Regions from separate parts of the Homo sapiens genome. Here region 1 is linked to region 2. The links come from fine-mapping of genetic effects on gene expression. A gene starts in region 2. The other region holds a variant in brackets. All regions are shown on one strand. Distances are from middle to middle.

Region 1 (5,375 bases), 32 kb after region 2:
ATGGCCTGTCTGGTTTCCTGCCCGATCCCTTCTTCCAGGTTCAAGTGCTGGTCTCATCGGGTAAGAGCCTCTTTTCTCAGGCATCTGAGGCCATCTCTGCAGAGCAGCCACAGAAATTTTGGCCCAGGAGAGAAGAACTGGGCCTAGTGTGGTGCATCAGAGACTCAGGACAGAGTATGTTGTGTGAATGTGTGTGGGAAATACATGTGTGTTTGAATGAGTGGGACAGTGTAAGTGTGTTTCAGTGTGTGACTGTGAGTTGTGTGCAAACATGTGAGAGTGAGTGCAGGTGTGAAGGTGTGTGTGAAAGCAGGTGTGTGTGAATGTGTGAGAGAGCAGGTGTGTGTGAGTGTGTGTGAGTGTGTGAGGGAGCAAGTGTGTGTGAGTGTGAGTGTGTGAGAGCAGGTGTGAGTGAGTGTGGGAGTGTGTGTGAGAGCAGGTGTGTGAGTGTGTGAGTGTGTGTGAGAGCAAGTGTGTGAGTGTGTGCAAGAGCTGGTGTGTGGGTGTGTGTGAGAGCAGGTGTGTGTGAGTGTGTGTGAGAGCAGGTGTGTGTGTGAGAGCAGGTGTGTGAGTGTGCATGTGAGAGTGTGTGTGAGAGCAGGCGTGTGTGAGTGAGTGGGCGTGTGAGTGTATTTGTGAAGTTGCGTGAGTGCACATGTGAGAGTGTGTGTGCAGGTGTGAGAGTGTGTGTGAGACAGAGAGTGTGTGCTGGAGGGTAGTGGTGGTGTGTGGATACACTGGCAAGGATGGGGGTTTTGGAACCTAAGCCTAACCTTCGGCATGTTGATTTTCAGCGAGATGGGGGACACCAACATGGGAGAAGGTGGTCATCCTCTGGTCTGGGTTTATAAAATGCCCACCCGGCCCCAGAGCAGGGCATCCATTGGGATGGGGTTGGGGGGATGCTCTGTTACTCCAGTCAGGCTTTGGTCTGCCTATTGGAAGACGATGGTCCTAGAACATCTGTCCAGCTGCCTCCTTGAGCGTCCTCTGCTTTATGAAGTCAGAACCATGCAGGTACCAGGTACTCAGCTGGGAAGAGTCAGGCGTAGGGCACTGAACCTCTGTTCTTTATCCTCAGCCTCCAGTACTGAGAACTCTGTGAAGACACCTGCATCTCCCACCAGGCCCAGCCAATGCCAAGGGTAAAATGCACGTGTCCCAGTGTCTTTTGCCATGTGTGCAGCTTCTTTCCTAGGGTGGGGCTTCCTAGACACAGGTTTCCTTGATTATTCACCCACTCAACATTTATTTATTTATTTATTTTTTGAGACAGAGTCTAGCTCTATCGCCGAGGCTGGACTGCAGTGGCACGATCTCGGCTCACTGCAAACTCCGCCTCCCGGGTTCACGCCATTCTCCTGCCTCAGCCTCCTGAGTAGCTGGGACTACAGGCGCCCGCCACTAGGCCCGGCTAATTTTTTTTTTTGTATTTTTAGTAGAGACGGGGGTTTCACCATGTTAGCCAGGATGGTCTCGATCTCCTGACCTCGTGATCTGCCCGCCTCGGCCTCCCAAAGTGCTGGGATTACAGGTGTGAGCCACCGTGCTCGGCCAACAGGTGTTTATTTGTTATGCGCCAGAAACTGATGGAGATTCTAGAGATGCAACAGTGAACAAAGGGGCAAGATTGTGCTCTTGAGGAAGTTGCAAATAGGTAGATTCAGGCAATGGCCAGATGGATAGATAGATAGACAGACAGACAGGTGGACAGACAGATAGATGGATAGATAGATAGATAGATAGATAGATAGATAGGTGGATAGATAGATAAACAGACAGATGATAGATATGATATGAAAGATGATAGAGATGGCTGGCTGGCTGACTGGAAAGACAGATGGAGATGATAGCTGGCAGAGAGAGATATGTAATAGAGACAGAGAGACGATAGATCAAGGAAATATGTCAACGAATGATAATTACTGTGGAGGAAAATAAAGCAGGTGTAAAGAGATAGGGTGCCAGAGTGTGTGGGAAGCTGGTGGGGCATGATTTGGGCTATCAAGGAAATACAAGATGTTCCACAGAAACAAAGAACAAAGGGACTGTCTTAGTTTGGGTTTCCCCCAAATCAGGTCCTGAGACAAGGACTTAGGAGCAATTTGTTTATTGAGAGGTAATCTCAAGAAGTACATTGAGAGAGCAGAAAGTGAGACCAGGAAAGGGGAAGGGCGGTGAAATGTGCTGTAATGAAGGGGTTATCCCCGTAGTAACTGGAGTCACTGGAGATTAACCCCTCTGGGCACCCTATGAGAGACTG[T/C]GTAGAACGTTCCTCAGAACTGGAGACAGAGTCTTCCAGGCAGCAGGCACTCCTGGGGGCATGAATTCTGTGGCCCATCTGGCCTGCTCTGCACAGGAAAATGTGTGCACTCTTGTAGATAACCTCAGGCAGAGATGGGGAGCTTGAGCTGGGAAATCCTTGGTGGGGCCAAGACTGCCTGCAGCTGCCAGGAGCTCAAGTGGGCAAAGGTGATATGGGGCAGGGCGCCAACAGGGTTTGTTACAGGGACTCGTCTTAGAGAGGATCAGGGAGGGCATCAGACAAGCCCTGCAGGTAGAGGGCTGGGAAGGTGGAGAGATGGCACAGCGGCCCATTTTGGGGAGAGAATGCAGCATCTGAGGAGTTGGAATGGGAGCAGTGTAGTGGGACCCACGGAGCGAGACGACTGGCCATGGGCTGAGCTTGGAGAGTTCACTCCTTGGGGTTGAGATTGTTAAGCCGTTTAAGCAAAAGAGCTGTTCTTGTGATCATATTTAATTTGAGTGAAGATGGTTGTAAAGGAGTATTTCATCCTTGAGGTTGTTCCCAGCAAGAGCTGAGTTCCTGCGGGCATCAGTGGCTGAGGGATCTGTTCAGGAAGTTGTTTCTGGGAGCCAGTTCCTGCCTGGGTTAACATATCTCTCTTCTTCTCTATCCCTCACCTCCGGCATCTGTTGGGTCTTGACACTCAAGGTTAATTCTGAGCTGAATGAAGGTCAGGAGCCTGTGACCCTCAGCATGGGGCTGCCTGACCCTGGTACCCACCAGGCTTGATGCTGACATTGGGTTTGAGGGCACAGGACGAGACCTCGAGGGAAGGCGGGGGAGAGGCAGAGCCTGGGACTCCCCGGAGAAGGCAGCTTACTACTAGTCACTCTCTCCGTCTCACAGGTCCCTGCCCAGCAGCACCTGCTTCCTGCTTCTCCCACTCCTGAAGGTGCCTCTGCTCCTGAGCATACTCGGTGCTATCCTCTGGGTGAACAGGCCTTGGAGGACTCCTTGGACAGAGTCATGAACAGGAGAACTTGCAACACCCCATGCCCATTGGAACCCTGTCCAGAGACACAGCCCCTCTGACTGCAAAAAGGACTTCTGACCCTGACCCTCATATTTCTTTCCATCTTATCACCGGATACTTTTTAAAAGTTAAAAAAAAATGTAGGCCGGGTGCGGTGGCTTACACCTGCAATCCCAGCACTTTGGGAGGCCAAGGCAGGTGGATCACTTGAGTCCAGGAGTTTGAGAGCAGCCTGGGCAGCATGGTCAGACCTCATCTCTACAAAAAAATACAAAAATTAGCAGGGTGTGGTGGTGTATGCCTGTGATCCCAGCTACTTGGGAAGCTGAGACAGGAGGATCGCTTGAGCCCCGGAGGTGGAGGTTGCATTGAGTCGAGATTGTGCCACTGCACTCCAGCCTGGGTGACAGAGGGAGACCCTGTCTCAGATAAACAAATAAATAAATAAAATACATCCCATACACAAGAGTATGTATATGAGGTATCTATACAGTTCAAGGACTAAAAATAAACATGTGTACCCACCATTCAGCCTAGGAAATCAATCATTATTAAGATGTTTGAAGCCCCCCATATGCCTCTCCCTGACCTCATAACTGTCTTTCCCCTACTGTCAGGGTTAAATACTATCTGAATATTTCTTGGAGTAATCACTCCCTTGCTTTAGTGTGCTGAGCAAGGACATGGTTGTTTTTGAATCCTGCACAGAGGAAATCATACTGTTGCAAGTTCTTCTGCTCATAAACCATATTGGATTTTTTTCCTTTCCTGACAGTAGATTGTAGGGAACTCCCTACAAACAAACAAAAACAAAACAAAACTGTGATTGGGCCATCAACTGGTTCAGTTTAAGTTGGTTTACTGTTATATGATGGGACCCCTCTGAGTTTTTCAGGGACCAGGTTAATGTATTGAGGACATGTTTAAAAATGTACCTGAGGCTGGGCATGGTGGCTCCCATCTCTAATGCCAACACTTTGGGAGGCTGAGACGGGATGATTGCTTGAACTCAGCCTGGGCAACATAGCAAGACTTCATGCCTACTTAAAAAAAAAATTTAGCCAGGCATGGTGGCACGCACCTGTAGTCCCAGCTTCTCAGAAGGCTGAGGCAGGAGGAATGCTTGAGCCTGGGAGATGGAGGCTGCAGTGAGCTATGATCATACCACTACACTGTGGCCTGGGTGACACAGTGAGACCCTGTCTCAAAACAAAACAAAAAAATGTACCAGGATTTGTTTTAACCAGATATGGTAAGGCATGCAGATACGGAAATGACTGTCATAAAGAAATAAGTTTCTACTCAAAGACCCCTAGAAGCAGGAGGTGCAGTGTGCCATGTAGGGCCACACGGGGAAGCACGAGGGCGGGTGAAGGGGCAGAGAGAGAGAGAGAGGAAATGTATGTGGGAGCCTTTATCATGGTTTTCAGAGGAAGTGATAGGCAAGGTAAGGTAAGCAAACAGCAGGCTTCGGAGTGTGTAGTTTGAATTATTCTGATGGGCTAGGATACAAGAGTGGTCTCTAGTTGTCTGGTACCTGGCCCTGGGGTGATTTAGGGCAGGGGAAAGAAAATATCCCAGACTGCAGGAGCCTGCTGAAAGGAAGCAGGTGGGGGCATGGAATAGGGAATGGTTTGGTTTGCATATCAAAGGCAGACTTGCAGGCCAGTTGTTTACTTTCTCTAGGAATTAGCCCTGGGAGAGAGTTATTTGGATGGATATATTTGCCTATCTGAGTGGCTAAAATAAAAAAATAGTGACTATGTAGCAGGAAGAGCCACAGACAAAACTCCTCAGACACCGAGTTAAAGAAGGAAGGGGTTTATTCGGCTGGGAGCATCGGCAAGACTCCTGTCTCAAGAGCTGAGCTACCTGAGTGAGCAGTTCCTGTCCTGTTAAGGGCTCACAACTCTAAGGGGGTCTGCATGAGAGGGTCCTGACTGATTGAGCAAGCAGGGGGTACGTGACTAGGGGACGCATACACTGTTAATTAGAACGGAACAGAACAGGACAGGGATCTTCACAGTGCTTTTTTATGCAAATAACCGATTAGGTCAGGGGTCTATCTTTACCAGGCCCAGGGTGTGGTGCTGG
Region 2 (5,375 bases):
AAAATTAGCCAGTGCAATGTTGCACAACTGTAGTGTCAGCTACTCGGCTGAGGCAAGAGGATCACTGAAGCTCAGGAGTTGGAGGCTGCAGTGAGCTAGCTATGATTGTGCCACTGCACTCCAGCTTGGGCAACAGAGTGAGACCCTGTCTCCAAAACAAAACAAAACAAAACAAAACAAAACAAAACAAAACAAAACAAAACAACAACAAACCCACCACCATATTAAAGGAATAGCCAAATTTCCAGCTTCTGTGCCAACAGTGACAGGTTTACTAGAATAGATGAGCATAACCTGGTGTGTTGTGTGTGACTGTTGATCTGGCAAAAGCATCCTTTCCGCCACCATCAGGAAGGAGGAACAGAGGCAGGCGCATTCGCTTGGCATGGACAACAGTATACTTTCACAGTCTTGTTCCAGGACTGTGTTAATTTTCTTCTCCTTGTAGTATTGTTCTAAGAAACCTGAATCGTCCAGCCATTGCCCAGAACATAAAGGTAGTCCCCTGTGTTTATGACATCATGCTAATTGCACCTGATAACAAGAAGAGGCTAGCAACTGGATGTGCTCCAGAGGCTGGGAGATAAACCCTACACTGGTTTAGGGGCCTGCCGTGTCAAAAGATTAGGGGTATGGTGGTCTGGGGCATATTGGGTGTACCCTCAGAGTAAAGGGCAGATAAAATAAATTGCATTTTGCAACTCCTACTTCTAATTGACCCACCTGATAAAACTCAGGGGAGGCTTTGAACTCAGAGCCAGCAGGTGTGATGAAGAGTGTGGGTCAGAAGTGGGAATGGAGACTGGGGACCCAATTGGAGCTTTGTTCATGGAGCAGTTCCACAAACATGTTTTTGTTTTGTTTTGTTTTGTTTTTGAGATGGAGTCTCACTCTGTCACCCCGGCTGAAGTGCAATGGTGTGATCTCGGCTCACTGCAACATCCGCCTCCCAGGTTCAAGTGATTCTCCTGCCTCAGCCTCCCAAGTAGCTGGAATTACAGGCGTGCGCTGCCATGCTGGGCTAATTTTTGTATTTTTTGGTAGAGACGGGGTTTCACTATGTTGGCCAGGCTGGTCTTGAACTCCTGACCTCAGGTGATCCACGCGCCTCGACCCCCCAAAGTGCTGGGATTATAGATGTGAGCCACTGTGCCCGGCCAAACATGTACATCTTTACATATACCCCAAATGCCTGGAGGCAGGCACTGACCCCCAGGCAAAAGAGCAGGAATTCTTTATTTTAATGTAATATCTGGGAAGCCATGGCAGTGAGAATGCTGGAGCTCAACTTCAATCCTCTTCAGTCTAGAGTTTAGAAGACCGCTCTCTGCCCACGCCCCTTAAAGTGTAGCTTGTAAGTCAAGAAAGAATCAAGGGTTCAAACAATTTGGCATGATAAATTGGAACTATTTTCTTTTCTTTCTCTTTCTTTTTATATTTTATTTTATTTCAATAGTTTTTGGGGAGCAGATGGCTTTTGGTTACAAGGATAAGGTCTTTAGCAGTGACTTCTGAGATTTTGGTGCACCCTTCACTGGAGCAGTGTACACTGTACCCAATGTATGGTTTTTTATCCCTCATCCCCTGCATCCTTTCCCCTAAGTCCCCAAAATCCATTGTATCATTCTTGTGCCTTTGTATCTTCATAGCGCAGCTCCCACTTATAAGTGAGGATGTACAATATTTGGTTCTCCATTCCTGAGTTATTTCACTTAGAATAATGATCTCCAACTCCATCCAGGTTGCTGTGAATGCCATTATTTTGTTCCTTTTTGTGGCTGAATAGTATTCCATGGTGTATATGTACACCGCATTGTCTTTATCCACTCATTGCTTGATGGGCATTTAGGCTGGTTCCCTATGTTTTCAATCGCAAATTGTGCTGCTATAAACATGCGTGTACAAGTGTCTTTTTTGGAACTAGTTTTTTTGCCCAGGCTAGAGAGCAGTGGTGCAATCTGGGCTCACTGCAATCTCCACCTCCCAGGTTCAGGCGATTCTCCTGCCTCAGCCTCCTGAGTAGCTGGGATTACAGGCGTGTGCCACCACCTGGCTAATTTTTGTATTTTTAGTAGAGATGGGGTTTCTCCATGTTGGCCAGGCTGGTTTCGAACTCCTGACCTCAGGTGGTCTGTCCGCCTTGGCCTCCCAAAGTGCTGGATTACAGGCATGAGCCACCAGAGCTATTTTATATACTATTTACTCCTACATACTCTGAGGTCTCAGTTAGCTACACTTTATCTTGTTCTCAACTATGATTGGATAACCAAGAATCAGCAGACACTTGAGGAAGGCTCATAATATAGAAGAAGCAGACAACAAAACAAAGATGTGACCACTGAGTGGAGGGATATAGTTCAAGGAACAGAAGAGAGTTTGAAAACATCAGTAATCAAAGAACCAAAAAAACTTTTCGAAATAAAAATACAGTCTCTAAAATCAATATTTGATCCAAGGATTGGAAGGGAAAGTACAAGCATGAAATAAACAATATAAAAAGCTCCCCAAATGTAGAACAAAGCCCACAGATATGGAAAATATAAAACAGGAGAGAAAAAATGAATCGATTCAGGAGGGAAAGGGAGAGAAAGAGGGAAGGGACCATCTAAAGAAAGTGGGGAGAGACCGGGAAAGAAGTCAGTTCGGGCGTCAGCAGAACAAGTAGATTACAACAGCAGCCAGGGGAAAGTGTGCAGGGATAGGGAGGATGAAATCAGGGCAAGAGGAGGCTAACGAGAAAAGGCAATTTCTCCATTCCTGACCTTCCCCACTGAGCCCAGCTTTGGCTTCAGAGTGATTTCAGAGTGGCTTCAGAGTGACTCATGATCCCAGTGGAAGTGTTCCTGGGGGAAGGGGCAGTGGGTCAGACAGCCCAGGGCAGGAAGAGGCAATGAGATGTCTTACAGTGGGGCTGCCTGGAAGAAGCCTGGGGCATGGGCTTTCTCCAGCAAGGCTGGGTGTGAGTCCTGTGCACTGTGGTCTTCCCAAAGTGCTCCTCTCCCTGCACTCCTCATGGCTGGCCTTGTCCGTCCTCTCCTCCAGGCAGTAGATCCCGCAGCTCCTCAATGCTTGGGTTCCTCCTGGCTCCTCCTGCTCCTTGGCTCCTACGTGCACTCCCGTGCAAACCTGACCAGTCCCGGACACATTTTCTTTTCCACATGCACAAAAGTTTGGGCACACCTTGCAACATACACTGTACCTTAGTCTTTTCAAAGAATGACACCTCTTTTCTCCTAATATGTAAAAAGAGAAGTAGCTACAGATGTAACAGGAAGTGAGCAAGAGACTTGAAGGAGATTCGAGTAGGTTTGCGGTGTTGACTTCCGAGCTTGGATTCAAGTCCCTGAAGGGCACCAGACACCTGTGATCACCAAGGAGAGGAGAGGAGACAGGACCATGTGGCTGTCCCCATCTCTGCTGCTTCTCATCCTCCCAGGTGAGTGTGGCTGGAGCTTTAAGGCACTGGAATGACAGCGGCTGGCTTGGAGACAGAGACGCTCTGTTCTCAGGAAGGAGACATGTCAGGGAAAATGACAGCGCCAATTCATCCATCCATGCCCATATTCATTAAATAGCAATCAAGTTTTTGTTATCTGACAGGTTCTGTGTTAGATGCTGCAGAAACAAACACACACAAAACAAAACAAGTATAGCTTCTTGTTGGAACAGTGGTTCTCAACCCTGACTGTTCCATATAAACAGATGAATGAACAGATATCAATGAAGGAAGGAACTAATGAGTGAGTCCATTCTTGAAGAACTTTTTTTTTTTTTTTTTTTTGAGCTGGTGTCTCGCTCTGTCACCCAGGCTGGAGTGCTTCTTTCACTTAGCATGATGTTTCAAGGTTACTTTGTGTTGTAGCACAAATCAAAGCTTCATTCTTTTTCATGGCTGCATAGTATTTCACAGTGGATATACCACATTTGGTTTCTCCAGTCATTTGTCAATGAACCTTAGGGTTGTTTCTACCTTTTAAAAATTGTTAGTAATAATGTTATGAACTTTCATAGCACAGTTTTGTATGGAGATATGTTTTCAGTTCTCTTGGGTATATATCTAGGGGTAAAATGGCTGAATCCTATGTTAATTCTATGTTTAACTTTTTGAGGAAGCATCAAACCTTTTTCCCAAGGATTTATATTTGAGTACAGCTTTGGCTGTCATGTCAACAAATTTTGATACGTAGTGTTTTCATTTCTGTTAAAATGTAACAAATCTATGTGCTTCTCATATTATCTATACTCAGATCAAGCTTTGTAAGAAAATTTTTCCTTCCAATCTCAAATTTATTTTCTTTTAAAATAGATTATTATTATTATTATTATTATTTTTATTTTTTTTTTTTTTGTAGAGATGAGGACTCACTTTCATGCCCAGGCTGGTCTCAAACTCCTGGGCTCAAGTGATCCTCCCACTTTGGCCTCCCAAAGTGCTGGGATTATAGGTGTGAGCCACCATGCCTGGCTTCAAATTTATATTCTGTAAACAATTTTCAGATATATTCTCCTTCCTTTCCTTCCTTCTGAGACAGGGTGTGCTCTGTCACCCAATCTGGAGTACAGTGCTGGGATCAGGGTTCACTGCAGCCTTGACCTCCCAGGCTCAAGCCATCCTCCCACCTCAGCCTCCTGAGTGAGTAGCTGGGACTACAGGCATGTGGTGCGACACCCAGCTAATATTTATTTATTTATTTAGTCTCGCTATGTTGCCAGGGCTGCTCTCAAGCTCCAGGGCTCACGCGATTCTCCTGCCTCAGCCTCCCAAAGTTGTTATATTACAAGTGTGAGCTACCACACCCAGCTCTTATTTCTTATAAATAACTTCCAGATGTAGTTTTTCTTTAAATATTTACCTTAATTGTTGTCTTTCCATTCTGATGTAGAACTTTTTTCAGAGTGAACAAATGAAGCCCCTATACCCATCTTTCCCCAGGAGGTCGTGTGTAGTTTCTTAGTTCCCTTCAGATGCCATAGAAAGCAGATTTGGGCATGGAGTCCAATTTCTGTTCCAGGAATTCCTTGGGTTGTGGAGCTCTGCCTGTTTATGGTGAAATTGTCTTCCGCTCCCACCATGGTGACCCTGGTTTTTCAAGACATTCCAATGAAGTCTAAAGTTTTCATTCATCCAGGGGTAATAATAATAATAATAATAATAACAAACATAATATAGTAACATAGAGGTAGATGCCATTACTATTCCCACTTATAGAAAACGAAGTCACAGTGTATTAGTCCATTTTCACGCTGCTGATAAGGACATACCCGAGACTGAGTAAATTACACAGAAAAAGAGGTTTAATGGACTCACAGTTCCACATGACTGGGGAGGCCTCACAATCATGGTGGAAGGTGAAAGGCATGTATTATATGGCAGC

Direction of the effects. Positions count from the first base shown, and alleles are read on the strand shown. Sizes are in standard deviations (SD) of each study's normalised expression.
For the expression in whole blood of the gene that starts at base 3,316 in region 2, T is the low allele of the variant in region 1 and C is the other (large effect, 1.6 SD a copy in TwinsUK).

What was found. PIP is the estimated chance that this variant, and not a neighbour inherited with it, causes the effect.
Region 1: its variant is the best candidate, but not a certain one, in a credible set for the expression of CD300LD in whole blood (TwinsUK, PIP 0.89).

Annotation. Positions count from the first base shown.
Region 1 is chr17:74,558,604-74,563,978 of GRCh38, reverse strand. CD300H (CD300H molecule (gene/pseudogene)) reads left to right here. Exons shown (of 4, transcript NM_001405511.1): 2 at 1-60; 3 at 1,082-1,145; 4 at 3,155-3,808. The coding sequence ends at 3,278. Among named protein-coding and RNA genes, the nearest start is that of CD300H, 6.2 kb to the left of the region's middle. The variant T/C (reference allele first, on the strand shown) is at 2,264.
Region 2 is chr17:74,590,224-74,595,598 of GRCh38, reverse strand. CD300LD (CD300 molecule like family member d) reads left to right here and starts at 3,316. Exons shown (of 4, transcript NM_001115152.2): 1 at 3,316-3,436. The coding sequence starts at 3,397. It overlaps CD300LD-AS1 (CD300LD antisense RNA 1), which reads right to left. Exons shown (of 3, transcript NR_171003.1): 2 at 4,854-5,080; 3 at 1,390-3,615. RefSeq lists an enhancer at 3,283-3,412.